2 separate regions of the Homo sapiens genome follow, and region 2 is linked to region 1. The links come from fine-mapping of genetic effects on gene expression. Tissue or cell type: whole blood. Region 1 holds a variant in brackets; the other region holds the start of a gene. All regions are shown on one strand. Distances are from middle to middle. Region 1 has its middle 94 kb from the start of DLEU7-AS1. Region 2 holds the start of DLEU7 (deleted in lymphocytic leukemia 7).

Evidence for each region.
Region 2: DLEU7 starts here. The variant in region 1 is fine-mapped to the expression of DLEU7 in whole blood (TOPMed, PIP above 0.99).

Annotation. Positions count from the first base shown.
Region 1 is chr13:50,710,122-50,718,457 of GRCh38, forward strand. It overlaps a transcript of DLEU7 not described here. Among named protein-coding and RNA genes, the nearest start is that of DLEU7-AS1, 94 kb to the right of the region's middle. The variant C/T (reference allele first, on the strand shown) is at 4,066.
Region 2 is chr13:50,838,937-50,847,272 of GRCh38, forward strand. DLEU7 (deleted in lymphocytic leukemia 7) reads right to left here and starts at 4,756. Exons shown (of 2, transcript NM_001306135.2): 1 at 4,252-4,756. The coding sequence starts at 4,710. DLEU7-AS1 (DLEU7 antisense RNA 1) reads left to right here. Exons shown (of 5, transcript NR_046551.1): 4 at 1,092-1,158. RefSeq lists an enhancer at 3,686-4,612.

The DNA of each region.
Region 1 (8,336 bases):
TTCTGGCACTTTCCACTTAATATTTTCAGACTATGGTTGATCACAGGTAGCTCAAACTGCAGAAAGTGAAACTGTGGATAAGGGGGTACTAGTTTTACCATTTGGGAATGTGGCCCATTGCTTTCAGAGAATCAGCAATTTCGTTAGTTGAAAATACAAATTTCTGTGGGTAGTTTTCTAATTTTCAAATGTTAGTAGCTAATTTACAATTATCTAAAATACTATGTGGGCTAATTTGTGAGCTTTGCCTTAATGTTTGTAAGACTAATTGTCACTGGAAATGGAATTCTGCCTGCCTGTGACCCCTGAGTGATAGAAATAGAAGCCATAAGTGGCAGTTACAGAGAAATAGGCCTTGGTCCAAAATAAGAACACATTTTCTAATAATATTATTCAAAGGCAGAGTGTTCTTCTCTAGGGCATGAGTTGCTCATTTCTATAGATGTTCAAGTATCAATTGGTTGGCATCTTTGCCAGAACTGTGTAAAGGAAGACCAGGCATCAGATAGATGGGATGTTAGACTTCACATCTCCCTTTCAAACCTGAGCTCCTTTGAATCAAAAGCACTACTTTTTCACAAAGGTTTCAATTCAAGCTGGACTGGGCATTCAGAATGAGCCTTTTGGTTTTACTTTCTGTGTCATACGTAGAACACATGTGTGTCTCTTCTGGTCTGTAAATATAGGATGGGACTGAGATGCCTTTTTCAAGGGAAAATGTTTCAAAGGCTGATTATTACTATTTTAGACTTTCTATCTCTTGGGTTTGCCTTGCCCTGAGTTGGCCTGTGTTTCTTCAAATCCACTCAGCAAGGTTCAACTTGGTTTGGCTGTGTCTCTGCTGGTATTATTTTCTATGGAAATAAATGCACACAGACTCTGATAATTTATATACATTCAGATGTAACCATAAGGAGAAACCAACACTTTACTATATATTTTTAAATTTCCATAAATCTGGGATCTGGAAATGAACAATTTTTCTTCTGAACACACAAAATTGGCAAAAATACCAAATTTGCCAATATTGGTATTTTCTGTACCCTCAAAAATATTGAGTATATCAATATAACAATGAAAATGTGAACATTTAAGCAAAAACAATTTGGCCAATTAAACCAGATATACCAATTAATTCAATGACAAAAATAAGTCAAAGAACTCAGCTTTGGCACATGGAGGCATTCAAGACACCAGCATCTGTTTTATTTTTGACAGCAGCGTCTGGTCCTTATATATTCATCTAACACTTTCAGTAGATCTTGACTTCGGTATGAAACTTGCTCACATTTTCAGATCTACAAAGGACAGATTTTAACCATTATTCTGAAAATGCTTTCCTTTCCATAAGAAAATGAAGAAAAAAGCCTGCTTTATATTAAAATGCTTATTTTAGCCATGAAGATAAGCCCTAGCCATTCTCAGATGCTGAAATACTTTGGTTTGGAAGATCTTTACTGCATGGTTCTTGGCCTGGAGCCTTATCACGCTAGAGAATCCAATCCACGTGAATGTTCTGTTTTTCAATCATTTGTTTGCAAAGTCTAATCTGGAAGGGGAATTAATATTATTAAGGACATTTTATGTGCAAGGGCTGTGCCAGGCATTTAACAAGTATTATCTTGTTTAACCCTCACAATGACCCAGTGGCGGGGGCGGGGGGCATTACTACCTATACCTACATGAGAAAGCAGGCTCTGGAGCATCAGAATCAAATCAGAGCCTGGGACTCAGGGCAGCCAGCTCCAAGGTCACACAGGATTTTTTTTTTTTTTTTCTGCGTAAGAAAAATATTGGGGAAAGGAGAAGAGAAATCCATTGTAAACTTAGGTAATCCAAAATTAAATTTCAGGGACCATTTATGAAACTATCTCTTTGAATCGTAATTCCAGTTACACATTAAATTTAACTGTAGGGAGACCTGAGTACAAACATTCATTGATTAGCCTTACAGTAAATTTGTGAGATCAAAACTTCCTAAATCCTATTGCAGATGGTACTAGCCACTGACTTTGACTTTCAGCTGTTAGACTGATCATTAGCAAACAACTTCTGGGCCAAGTGCCCACATCAGTTTTGAGGGAACTTTGGGATTTTTCTTTGCTTTGATTTGTAACAATCTATGTACGCCTTCTTTGGTAACCCTGATGAGAGCTCAAAGTAGGACTTTAAGCAGATATCCTAAGGCCAATATCCCAATTCTGCGTTTGTTTTTTTCCTTGAGGTTTAAACAGTATGTTGAATCAACATTCTATCAAGAGCTTTTTTAGTGCTTTTACCAAGAAGTTGTTAGTGAGAGCTGCATTCAGTTCAACTTTCTTTCTCGGTTCCTTTCCCTACCCTGGTTTAGTGTGTTGAAAAATCCTTTTGCATCAGCATTTATGCAGCATATAATTTTTTTACTCTCATCCAACAGGCACATTTGGATTTACTATTTCACTTGAACAGTTGGTGTTTACTGGCAGCAACAAGAACAAAATTTATAGCAGCAAATGGAAGCTGAACTCGCATGCTGGCTTTGCACTGAAGAACTTTGTGTTTGCCATTTCCTAATTGTGAAAACAATATGTCCAAGATTTTGCAGTCATCAGCATTCTGATGTAACGACTTCCATCTGGTCAAAGGAAGAAATTCAGAACCTCTATCTCCTTTTGAATTCTACTTCAGTGCAAAGGTAACTGGCTTAGGAGAATGTTGGAAGACAAGAAATTCAGACAATACATTCTGAAAAGCGACTATAACATCCACTTTTCCAGGGGATAATTTTCCTGAAGAGCAAACAGGGGTAGGGAATTTGTCACGATCTTCTTAATGGAAGCGGCTCTAATTGGAGCAAGATGACAGGATTACTTGGAGGTGAGAGAGGATAAAGAAAGCAGGATGATTTGTGGCGCGTTCCAATCGGAGGTAATAAGAAGTCAGAGATCCACAGAGACCATGCAATTGGAGACCAATACGAAGGCAATGGAGGCCAACAACGTGGTAATAAGAAGTGGTTTAACATCCCATCTCATCCCATCTGGCATTCAGAATTTGGCACTGGTTATTGAAATATGAAGCTCCTGATGGTCCTCACACTCCTACAGTGACCTTCTTCACTCATTAGCCAGGAGTTGAAGCTGAAAGAAATGTAGCATAATATCTCAAATGCTTGCTTTGCATTTTTTATATTCATTGATTCAACAATTATTTACTGAGCACTATATTGCATTTTAGGAATGGCATTAGGTACTGGAGATATGGGCTAACACACATTTCTTGGCTACCCATTATAGATAATTACATGAGAAACACAAAATATGCATAGAAGGACCCTAATTTCGAGTCAAACAACCCAGGAAGAAGACTTCTCTATAGCTATCTTTATACTTTATATTAATCTTTTTCTTTGTATTTTATGTTCATCTTCTTCTTCCTGAAATGAGAAGGGAAGGAAAATAGAATTCTAGAAATAACCTTACAGCTGCCCTTCACTCTATGGAAAAAGTGAGCTCTTGACAGGAAAGGGGTTCTATCCATGATCTTACAATTCCTAAACAGCAACAGCATCATGGACGTATTTGTTCCTGGCGTCATAAGCCTGCATACGGTAGGCATTCAGTTAATAGGTACTGATTGGTCTAACAGAGGAAGCTGGGCTTGATTATAAAATAAACTAGGCTATGAAATCATGCCTCCTAAAAGCTCATTAAAGGCAGCAACACGGGATGGGGACTGTAAGGAAGTTGTCTCCCACCTGCCTCCCTCCTCAGACACACATCATTCCGCAGATGTGAAAACGACCCAGACTCTGCCCGCATGTGGCCTCCCGGACCGGGCAGTAGGGCCTTGCCCCTACCCTCATGAAGACTGTCGGCTGTGTTACAGAACTGCTGCTCTGTCTCTGACTCCCCTCACTCCCATGCTCTGTTGGAAACTCAAGTTGTGAAACCACAAAACACAGAAAGGAAGTGGTCAACTATTGCACATACTCAAGCTATGTAGTCTCAGTTTATTCCATTCTTGCAGGATCATTGTAGGAAGGCATAAGAGTCCTGCTTACTGGTGAGCCACTGAACACAAACT[C/T]CCTTCTCACCTCTGCCTTGGATCCCGCCATGCCTGAGGTCTAGGGCTAGAAGCGTTGTTTCATCCACATTAATTCCGGTCTTGGGCAACGTGGCTATTTTCTGACCTGTCTGTCTTCCCACCCTAGTGGTGAATTCTCTTTCTGGGATCTCAACTCCTTCTCCTGTCACCCAGCTTTTTCCGAGCAACCCCAGTCCATCTGGCATATCATTAGAATGTTAAACCTAAAACGGTAAGCCATTCTGTGAATACCTTTAAGTAACAGGATATTAAAATGAGACTTTTCCTGTTTTCTCAGTGCTAGCTGACATCTTTGAGCTGAGAAAAAAAAATATTGTTAAAAATGCTCATCTATTCTCAGGAGATGTCATCTGCTAAGGAGTGACCAAAAAAATGGTCCAATAACCCTGAAACCATCGCTCAAATCTTAGCTACGCAAGGGGAGACTTGTAAATTAATGAGGACGGCAAGGATTTCATGAGACAGAGCTTTCAGGCTGCTAAAATGCTTCCTCCTCCCTTCTCATGTGTTTTCCCCTCATCTTACGCAAATAAGAGGGGGCCTTCAGAGAATTACTTGGAGAGCTGACCTAGGACCCCTAGGCTTTGGGGAACATAGAATGTATTAGTGTCTATTGCTGCTGAAACAAATTAGCACACATTTAACAGCTTAAAAATAGCAAAATTACTACCTCACAGTTCTGTAGGTTAGAAGTCCAGTGGGCGCGGCTGGTGTGTGGGCTTCAAGCCTCACAGGGCTGAAATCAAGGTGTTGGCCAGGCTGTACTCCCTCCTAGAGGCTCTAATGAAGCATCTGTTTCCAGGCCTCTGCGCCTTGTTGGCGGAATTCAGTTCAATTTGCCTGATGGACTGAGGTCCCTGCTTCCCTGCGGGCTGTCGGCGGGAACTGCCACTGGCTCCTTGCAGCCTCTCTCTGATTCTTGCACAAGGGCACCTACATCTCAGAGCCAGCGAGAGTGTGAGTGTGTGGAATCCTTCTCACGAGGCCTCATCTCTCTGACTTTCGTCGGGAAATGTTCTCTGCTTTTAAAGGATCATGTAATTATTTTGAGCCTACCCGATAATCCAGGATAATCCCCTCATCTAAAAATCTGTTACCTTAACCACATCTGCAAAGTCCCTGTTGCCGTGTAATGTAAGCTATTCACAGGTTCTGGGGATTAGGAAAAGGACATCTTTGGTGGGGGCCTTATTCAGCCTACCACATAGAGATTAGTACCTGAAAAGCCAGCAGGTGAGAAGCTAGACAGAGCAGCCGGTGGCAGCTAAAGGAGAAAGGGGGCGAGAGCTGGAGAAGTCGCACTTCCGCCGATGGCGCAGCAAAGGGGATGTTGCCCTGGAGGACTCAGGGAACGGAACTGGGCTATCAGCCGAGAATGGGGCTCCACTCAAAAGGAGGAACCAACAGGAGACACAAGGAACCCCAGCAGGAAGAAGTCGGAGATGGAGGAGGGGAAGTCATAGCTGGAGGAGACGTGTGTTAGGAAGCTACAATGGCAGCTCCCTAGTGGAGGTGTTTCGGAAAAACTCCGAAGATTCCACTTGAGAAAATCATCGGCCTTCAGACAACGTCTATGCCAGATAATGCTACCAAATCACAACCTTGCCTTTCCTCCCTACTGCTGTTCTGATGTGGGAGGACCCAAAGGCAGCAGAAGAGCCAAAGAAGAGTAGCAGAAAGGTAAGTTTGGCTGTCATGCCCTGGCACACCTTGCTGCTACCCTGCAGCTCCCTGCCACCTGGCCATGCACTGCTTCCCCTCCACACCCTGCTGAGGCAGGTCTGGGCTGGGGACACAGGAAGCTTTGATGTTAGACTGAACTGGACCTTCAAGATCTCAAAACACAAAGTATTTGTTAGTAACTGAAAGGTGGCATAAATGTTAGATCAACCTAGGATTTTATCACCAAATAAGGAAACAAGTTCACTGGGCAGTTCTAAGAAAGAATAGAATTGCTTCCTGCTTGGTCTTTTTTGTTTAATAGACCAGATTCACAAATGCCCCAACCCTTCTCTAGCAATGTGTAGGTTCTGATCACCAAGGGCTATCTCAAGAGAAGGGCCAAACATCTCCATTAACAGGAACTCAAGCCCTTGTTTCATTGAAATGTTTGGTTACAGCTTAATGACCACAGTTGCAAAGCCAGAATATTGAGTTTTTATATGCTATATTATTTACATGGAATAATGCCCTCTTGGTACCATATTGAACATAGTAAATTCTCTGTTAATTGACACTATACAGAAAGAGTACTTTGACTGATCGAGGAAGGCTAATGTTTTTTGATCTCTAATCCTTGGGCTACCTTTTCCGTGATGTCACGGAAAGAGCATTAGACTAGTTATTGTTCTAGAACTGGGACTCTCACTAACTATATACACGTGGGCAGATCATTTTACATTTTTGAGCATTGGTTTCTTCATGTGTAAGGTGGTAACAACAATGTCTCCCCTGCCTTGTTCATAGGATTGTAGGGAGAATCAAATGACATAATGGTCATGAAAATATATTTCTAAGTTGTAATCTGTATATGTAATAAGGTGTTACTAGTAATTGAACATTTATATATATTCTGTAACAGGTTGTAAACTTTTAAAAGAGATCTAGTACACCAGGCTTAATGGACTATTTTTTGAAAGACACATCAAAAACTGTTGACAATAATTGCCTCTAGGTAGAGACATGAGAGTGATGGGAAGGAGGCAGACTTATTTTTCACTCAATTTCCTTTTGTATCTCTTGAATTAATACTATATATACACATGACGCATTTAATTTAAACCAATACAATTCAATAACTATTTGAGAAGTTAAAGAAAAAAGATATATTTATTCTGAATAATAAATTGAAAATAATCTAATCTTTCTGTAAAATGGCTTTTTAGGATCTTTAATACTTTAGCTTTAAGTGAGATGATTTAGTTGATGCAACCAGCACAGAACTTGGCACACAGTGGGTATTCAAAAAGTGGTAGAGCCCTTTGCCTTGAGGCCATCATATGACTATCCACTCCCAGTGAATTTGCTATATACAAGGATATAGTTAATGGGATGCTGGATATTAGAAAGTTTATTGGATTTTACCAGGATGCTGGACACAGATGGTAAGTGGAAAATGCCAGAAAGTTGATGAATCATCTGGTAAACTAGTGGAAAAGGTAAATGGAGCCAGAAAGAGGCCAGAGAGGGCAAGGAAACAGAACAGGTCTGGAGAAAGGCAACTACACTCATTGTATCATGTAACCCACTTTTCAGTTGCTGATGTTTCCAAAATGGTAAGTACATTTTGCAAACTGGAGTTATTCTGATCTTCATGCTATTAAATGCTTATTAATTAACAAATAGCGTGAAGTCTCATTAGCTAGGCTGTGGGTTTTTTTTTTTTTCAAATTTAGGATTTCTCTTCATTTTATGGTAAGGAGCAGGGAGTCCATAAATCAGAACACTTTATGAGAAGTTCTAACACCTAGCCCTAATGCCAAGACTGAGAATCTGATAGCATAGCTATTAAAAATTAAGACCCCTGAAAGACTTCCATTTCTGCTAACAGCAATGCCCAAGGCAGCCAGACACTATGTCTCCCTTTCTGTTTTAATGTAGTTGCATCAATTCTGCTATTCTGTTATAAAGCAAGCACCTAGAATGACATTTACAAAGCAGGCAAAATGAAAATGGAACAAAAACTCAAACTATCACATGCAGAAATCACCACCAATGCCAAGACATTATAGATAATATTGACATAGCTATGGGAAAATTTAAAATCTTGCTGCTCAAAGTGCTTCTTAAACAGCCTCATCAGCATCACATGGGAGCTTGTTTCCAATGCAGAATCTCAGGCCCTCCCCCAAGACCTACAGAATCAGAATATTTTGTTTTACAAGATCTGCAAGTGATTTCTATGAATATTGAAATTTAAGAAGCACTAATTTAAATGTATCAATGTGCTCCAGGTTAAAAAAAATGTTGCTGATGAAAAGACAACAATCGTTTTATCTCAGAAATGAGAAATGGTCAACTTTGGATTTTTCCTTGAGAATAAATAATTAATACATAAATTCAGCCCAAAACATAACATGGAAACATATTTCCAAAGAAAAGGCTTTGAGACAGTGGAACCATTTGGGTGCCATTTAAATTTAAAGAAGGAAATAGAAGAAAAAGAAGATCAAAGATGGAGACTCCAAGTCTTGGCAATTGATTGAACGTGAAGTCCTGTGAAGACCAAAGGCTCCCCACTCTGGTGATTA
Region 2 (8,336 bases), 130 kb after region 1:
AAATGGAATTTGTTGGCACCATGATTTTGGACTTCCAACCTCCAGAACAGGGAGAATATAAATGTCTGTTATTTAAGTCACCCCGTCTTTGGTATTTTGCTATGGCAAGCAGAGCTGCCAGGCTACGATGTGACTGTTGTAGTCCAAGCAGTGTACACAGTGCACAGCATGTACAACTACGGCCCCTAAGATCTCTCACATACACAATTTCAGCATGATGTTCATAACGCCCCTAAGGGCAAGCACTGTAATGTAGGAGAATAAGTTAGATAAAACCCATCACTTCTTAGCTGCAGGGTCTTGAGCAAAGTCCTCAATTCCTCCAAGCCTCAGTTTCCTCCTATTATAAATGTTTGTTAAGCTGGTTAAACCTAGTCTCTGCAGCAAATTTAATAAGATTTAGTACTGTTAAGCATTTTTCATCCACCATGAAGAAACTCACTGCAATAGGTGTTTGCATGTGTATGATCATTTCTAAGTGTTCAAAAGGAGTATTGTGTTGGTTTCTTTAATTAAAGAGTAAAATCCTATTTTTAAATGTCTGTTATCATTGTGGTGAGAATTTTTCTGCCTCCATGCCTGCAGATTTCACTGCCTTAACCTTCTGGTGGATTGATCAGTGAGTCACTCACTGGTGACACCTCTAAGCCTGTCACTAGGCATGAGGCTAAAGCTGACCTCTAGATAGTGTAGGCTTCCTGGAAATCTCTTTGGGTCATCCTAAGTCTGTTTTTGTCAATAGTTCCAGAAAAGCAGACACAGAGTTCATGGATCATATTCATTAATATCAAGAATAGAATTCACAAAAATAACAGTCAATAAGAATTCATGAGGCATCAACCTGTTAACAGTAATAATAATGATAATCATAATAGCTCAAATAGATGGAGATTAACTTTGGGAAGCCACTGACTAAATGCATTATCTCAGTAACCCTTTAGGTTAGATACCATTGTCCTCACTATACAGGGAGGAAACTGAGGGACAGAAAGGCTAAATAACTTACCCAAGGGCCAATGACAGGAAGTGGAAGAGTAGGTTTGAAATGCTCCATGGGACTTGACTGCTGTGCTATGCTCTCTCCACTGCAGGATCTCTAATGCCTGTCATCTGCGCCATGGGCTTTAGTTCAAGTGAGTCTTCCTCCTACCTTCCGTGGTAAGTAACACCACCAAAGAGATCTGATGTTGGGGAGGTTCCCACGTACTTCTAGGTGATACAAAATAGTTATTTCCATTCCCGGAAATCCTCCTGCAAGGATTTCTGAAACCATTCTATTGTATAAAATCTGTATGTTCCCAATTTAAAAATATACAAAACACCCTTCCAAGTCATTTGAATTAACACTAGTATTAAGGAAGCTAAGTCTGCATAACCAGCCCCCTGGAAAGACAGAATGCCATCTCCTCAAGTCTAAGTGCTGTGTAATCATTACTCTACAAACCAAGTGGAGATATTACCTATTCTGCAAACAGCAAACCAAGCAAAATTCCTAGGTGCTCCCAAGGGAACAAATCATGCAGAGAAACTGCTCTCTGCTTCTCTCGAAAGCCCTCGCTGTTCCCAGGGGCCCTAAAACTCATTATCCCCCTGCGGGTGAACAGCAGACTCCAGTAGTTGTATACTTCTAGAAAGTGGAAGCAGTACATCTAAATGTTTTCAAAGTTTGCTCATGACAAGGAAGGGAAGGATGGGGACTCAAGGGCTGGGTAAGTAAAGAGTGTTATGGACCAAGAGGGTCAGCAAAGAGGGGGCGGTAGAAAATGTAAGGAGAGAGAAAATTGATAGAAACAGGTCCAGGAGCAAGTGAAAGATTTGCTCCAGTGGAATTAACATGAATATACATGGGGATGGGGGGGCAGCACTTGAATTTTAGAAACAAAAATGAAGATGAGTAGAAATGCAATTTTTTAGGTAGAAAGATATTTCTGTCCACTGGCCTCTATTTTCTCAGAAAAGGTGTGAGCGGGTTGAGGTTTGGATGAAGAAGGCTTGAGGAGGATGGAAAATGTTTAGAATCAAAAGTCAATTAGAAAGGGCTAAAAGGATTTCCAAGTAGAAGTGACTGTGGCATTAAGCTAAAATGGCATAGTTTATAGTGGACTGCTTCCAGAGCAGAGGACACGGGGTTTAGTCCATTGCCACTGAGTTGGGTCAAGCCCTTAGACAGCTGTCTTCTGACCTGACTTTCAAACTGAAACCTACCCTTCTGTGATTTATCCAGGCTTCTGTGATTTACCTACCCTCTGCTTGCAAGACAATCCAAGGTCCTCAGCATGACACACAGGCCTTTCCCTAACTGGCCCCCATTTGTGTCTCCAGCATCAGTTTTTGCCTTCTGCCATATTGAACTTAACTGTAGTTCCTCTAGAGCCTCAGTCCCTTTCAGTGCTGCTGGGCCTTAACCAAAGTATTCTCCTGAAATATTTTTCCCTTTAATGTCTGGAAAATAACATGTATTTTTTTTTTAAAGGCTGCCTCCTCTGAGAAGCCTTCCAGGGTCACCTTAGGTAAAACTGATTGTCAGTCTCTCTTTTTGCCAGCCTTACCTATGCCCTGTATGTGCTACTGACATCACAAGTCACTTCATATTTCATCTATTTTAAAATGCACTTTTATTCACATTTTTTAAAAATCCCTGAAATCAGCCAGATGTGGTGGTACAGGTTTGTAGTTGCAGCTACTGAGGAGGCTGAGGCAGGAGGATCACTTGAGCCCAGGGCTCGAGGCTGTAGTGTTATGATCGCACCTGTGAATGGCTACCACACTGCAGCCTTGGCAACACAGGCAGACCTTGTCTCAAAAAAAAAAAAAAAAAAATCCCTTAAATTAGCATGTAACTTATAATCAATGGTGTATCATAGTTCAATGACAGGATTAAAAAAAATTTTGGTGATACCAAAAAAAAGTACATCTTACATTGGAGAGCATTTGGTGAAATGCAGCTTCATTTTCTAACTTTCTAAAGTGAGTGTAGGAGTGCTTCTCATCTTGCCTCCCACCCCACCGCCCCCGCCACCTTTGGCAGTGTCTGGAGACATTTTTGGCTGTATCAACTTGCGGCGAGGAATATGCTGCTGGCATCTAACAGGTAGAGGCGAGAGATGCTGCTAAACATCCTCTAATACACAGGACAACCCCCGACAACAAAGAATTAGCCAGGTCAAAATGTGAATAGTACAGAGATTGAGAAACCCCTACGTAGAGAAACAATACCTATTTGGGTATATAATAGGCTTTATTATGTTTGATTTTAAATAAATCTTTTACAGTGTATAGTGCAACTTAATGTATAGCAACTTTTTCCAAACCTTGGCTTGTACAGAATAGCAACTCTTGAGACATATTCTAAGCTCTCCTCATCACCCCTCCCCAACTCCTTCTGCTAGATGCCCCAGGGAAATAAAATACAGCAATGCTCCTGGTCAAAATCTGAAAGCCAGAATGTCTCAGAGAGATTCGTGACCTTAAACCAATTAGGTTAGTTAATGGCAAGTCCAGGACTGAAACCCAGACCCCCAGATTTCCGCAATCTCACTCAGCCTGGGAGACAGCTGCTCCCTTCCCGGGCTAAATTGGCTAACACAGTTTGGTACCTTAAGAGGAAATGTGCCCTACCTATATGAGCTGGGTGACTTAGCAAGAGTTTAGCATTTAGTATTCACGCTTTAACACCCGGGACCCACCCAGCTCTCACCCCACTTTATGAGAATGTAGGTTGACTCTGTAAGACCCCTTAGCTCTGTGGGGAATTGGATTTATGCAAAAAATAATAGTGATTCATGAATGTGAAGGAACTTTAAATAAATGTAGATGATTTCATCATACAAAAGGCAGAAGGGACTTAGTAAGTGTATTTAAGGCTCTGGAGGAAGCGTTATTAATTTGGAAAGTGGGTGGGGGGAGCTGTCCTCTATCCCTACAAGCTGCACGTGTGGAAAGGGCCTTTCTAGCGCAGGAAGCTGATTTATGTGAGAGAGGAAGGAGTTCCAGGGGGAGGTTTTGGCAAGGCAGTCCCCACATCTCGGTTGTGCCAGCCAGGCGGGCCTCAGGTGGGTCTGGGGCTCCCTGCCCCTCCTGCTGAGTCCCCAGAGTGTCCCCCGCCCCCTTCCTTCTCCCACTGGGGCTGAATCACAGTGGGCAGCAGTGTTTGGGATCCTGCGATCCACCCATCGCCATCCCAGCAGCCCCACCCTTGGAGGATGGGAGGTTACCCTGCACGCCAGAGGGGATGGCGGGGGCCAGACTCACCTTCAGGTGAATGGGAAAGGACCGCTCCTGCTGGAGGGGCCCCAGCAGCGTCTGCTCCACGCTGACCAGCTCCGAAGTCGAGTCCACCACGCGGGCCAGCGCGCTGCGCATCGCCATCTGGGCCAGGGTGCAGGGCCCGCGGTCCCGGGGGAAGGGCAGCAACTCGGCGCCCCCCTCAGCGCCTCGCACTACCTCCTCCTCTGGGGAGTTCGCCCGCGCCGCGGTCCGCCGACTCCTGGTCCCCACGCCCCCGCCCCGCTCCTCGCGCCCGGGCCCCGGCCGGGCCCGCGGCGGGCCTGAGCGACGGGCTGGAGCGGTGGACACGTGGTCTGGGTCCCGCGGGTTCCCGGGGGCGACTGGACCGTCCCCCCAGCCCCACTCCTGCTGCAGCAGCTGCAAGGTCTGCAGAGCCACCATTTGGTGGCTGATGGAGGCCACTAAGGGCGCAGGGCTGGCCATCGCCTCCGCTGGCGGCCCGGCGCGCTCCGCGTGCAGGTGGAGCAGCAGCGAGGGAGGCGGGGGCGTTGGGGTCGCCAAGGTCACATTTTCTAACCCGCGGCTCCTCGGCCTCTGGGTCTCACAGCGTGTGTGGTCGGCCCCGCCCCCGGCTCTGAATCGGTGACCCGTGCTGGCCTCTGCCTTCGCCTGAAGTCCGAATCAGGCGTGTTCTGACCCAAAGCTGCCTGAAGCGCTGCTCGGTGTGCACTTGAAAATCAGCGAAATGCTGAGCGTTGCTTCTTCCCTCTCTCCAGGGCTTTGATGAGAAAACGTGCTGCTTTGTGCGGGCGCATCCATCGGCGGGGATACCCCGCCCCCACCTCCTTCGAAGGATGCCTGCCAATGACCACTGAGGTCTGGGAGGTGGGGGTGCAAAAGACCCACTCTAGGGCAAAAGTACGAAGGGCTCTAGAAAAACTTGCAAAAGGAAGACTGTGCCTTTCCCAACCCGAGGGGAATTTTCAGAAACTTGTTGAAGCAGCCTTCAAGGCCTTGCATCCCCCAAACAAAAGAAGGAGGAGTTGTGTATCTGGAAGTTCTGCTCTTCTCTGCTTTGCTGGGTGCCACTTGAGCACCGAGAGCCTGGTGGCTGAACTAGCATCAGCAAGCCTCAAGGCCCAGGCCTGGCACTGCCCAGAAAAGCCTAAATGTTTTTTTGTGACACTCCCAAAAGACTTAGGCAGCAAGGTTGAAGTTAATCCTTTTATGAGCCATGAACTTAGGGACAGCTGTACAAATAGTTGCTGTTTTTAATTAAACCCAACATGGCTACTTCCTTAACTTAGAAAAAAGCGACTAGCAATGTTATGCTTTGATAGATTGGAAACCATGGGTGTGTGATCACACTTAAGAAAATAGAAGATATTTGAGAGGAGTGGTATGGAAAACCAGTCCGGAGCAGCATTGTTCCTGCTTGCTTTCTGCAAGGAAAACCACTAGACAACCCAACAGCCCAGTAAAGCCAGGGCAATGGTGCATGCCCACGACAGACAGGTGGGCCCTGGCAGACCTGAGGATGGAATTGCATTACTCCTTTGGGAGCCAGACTGCACCCTTGGTGCTGTGCAGATCTGGAGAGGCTTTTGAGTGAAAAGGCCACACTGGTTAGTCTGTGAGCACAAAAGGATCATCAGAAGAGATATGGAGAGGGATGTTGGGTCCTTTAAGGTTTCCTTAACCCTGGGATAGTATGACCCCATATAATCCTCCCAACTTGCCAGCAAAGGTTCCTTCTCCTTCCCAGTGCTTTCTTCGCCTATGAAAACGAATCTGAATGCCAAGGTAAAGAAAACCTTTCTTAAACAAAAACGAGTATGTTCACACTAATTATAACTAAGTAAAAATGCACGTCTGTGCATTGACAGAGAGGAAATTACTTTGGAGGGAAGTAAATAGTTTAATGTTGATTAGATTTTTTTGCCATGAAGTTACTTAAGTTCATAATAAAAAATAGAAAGAAAAAAATTTTCTTTTTAAAAAAAGTCTTCAAATGTTGAAATATATTAGGTTCAGCAGAGACTAACCAGCAATAGCAAAAATGAACCCCTAATTTTCACAGAGCATGTCAGATCTCTAGGGCTGCCTCTCTTTCCAGATACACAGGAAATTCAGTTTCATGGGCTAACCCTTCCACTATCAAATGGCTGACTGCAAAACTTTCTTGACAGTTGGAATTGCAGCCAAGAGCAGAATTGAAATCACTAGACACAGGCTGACCTGAGGCCCCACTCTTCTACATACCACACTGAGTCAGAGCCATGAGACCAACTGAACCTCAGGGGGCATGACAGAAGGGTGCCAGAAAACCTTGGGGCCTGAGGGATGGCACATGCTGCTTAAATTGCTGCCTGCTTTTTCTAGTATTCTTAGGAAGCCCTGGATCATCTGGCAACTGAGTGTTTTGTCTGTTTTGGCTGTGGGTCGCACTGTGTTTTGCTATGATCTCAAAATGGCTTGTGTTCCAAAGCTAGAGATATGAGAGCCTAACTCAGGAAAAATTTTCATAGTCTATTTAGATGAGTCAATAGCATAGCAGATCTACCTTTGGTCTAAAACACCTCCGTAGTTACGTTTGCTGGGCTACCAGACGAAGTAACAGATAGCCTACTTCTTACCCACTGTACTCACGATTTGAGGCCATTCTGTAATAAAGGGCACATTCAAAAGGACAAAGTATTAGATATCTGATATGTTTGTTTCACAACATATATTTCACTATTTTATAGAAATCATACCCTCATTTCTCAGTAGATATGCCTTTTCCTCCACACTCTGCCCGTGAAGTCAGATGGGATGAGCCCATCTCACTGCAGAAGAGTACTGGATCATCTAGCCTAAGTCCCATCACACATCACATCCCCACAGTGCATGCATGGTCAGGAATGGGCACATGACCCAGCTAGAGCCAATGAGACAGTATCTTTTAGGATGCTTTCAGCTGAATGCACTGTAAAAGAGAAAACAACAGATGCAAAGAGTACAGGCCAAAAAAGAAGTGTAGGCCAAGAGATGAAACAGCAAAAGATCAAATTCCCTTTAAACCAGAAAACTCAACATAACATAGTTTAATCAATAAGAATAATTTATTGTCTCACATCACAAGAAGTCCAAAGGCAGAGTGGCTCCAGAGTTGGTTAATATAGCAGCTCCTCAGTGTCATCAAAGCCCTTTGTTCCTTCCTTCTTTCTGCCATGCCATTCCCAGCACATCAGCTTTGTCCTTAATTTTTGGGCTAGTTCTCCTATGGCTACTAGCAGCTGCTGGCATCATGTCTAGACAACAATAACTAGAAGAAAAGGCCATCTTTTCCTGTGTATTCCTTCTCAAGAGCAAGGAAACACTTCTCAAAAGCCTTCAGCTGGCTTCCTCTCACATCTCCTTGACCAGAATTGTGTCACATGTTCTTGCCTAATTAATCACAGTCAAGAGGAAAGAGGCTACCATGAGAGTCTAAGGTGAACTAGAATTCAGTGTAGGAGTTGGGGCTGAGCCTAGCCTCTCTCAAAGCAATTGGTGGAGGGAGGATGAAAACTACTTGATATGAAGCAAGGTTTTGTTACCAAGCATCAGCAATGGCAACAGAGAACAATGAGGATTTTGCAGGGGTTTCCAGGTAAAGAATATATCAGATTTCCAGGGCTGCTTCTCTTTATCAATACACAGCAAGTCCAGTTTCATGAGGCTGATCTTTCTACTGTCAAATATCTGACTTCAGTGACCCCTGTGCAAGTAAAGCTGAGAAGATACAAGTTCTGGAGCCTCTGCAGCCATCTTGTGAGTTTGATGGGGACAGCCCGCCTATGAATGAGCCAGCACTCATGGAGAGAAGACGTTCATGAAACAAAAGCCAACAGATGTATAGAGAGAAACCGTGGCTGTATAGCAGCATTTGAGGTCCACATTTAGCAGCACAGGAAGTCAGCCCCACCTCTGAGCTTTTCAGTTATACGAGCCGATGAAGTCTCTTTTTGCTTAAGCCTCTTTGGATTGGATTTACTGCCTACTGCAACAGAAGGAGTCACAGCTGAAGCAAATAGCCTGACATATGTTATAGGAAAGATGGCATGTTCATGGAGTGACCCTGTGAC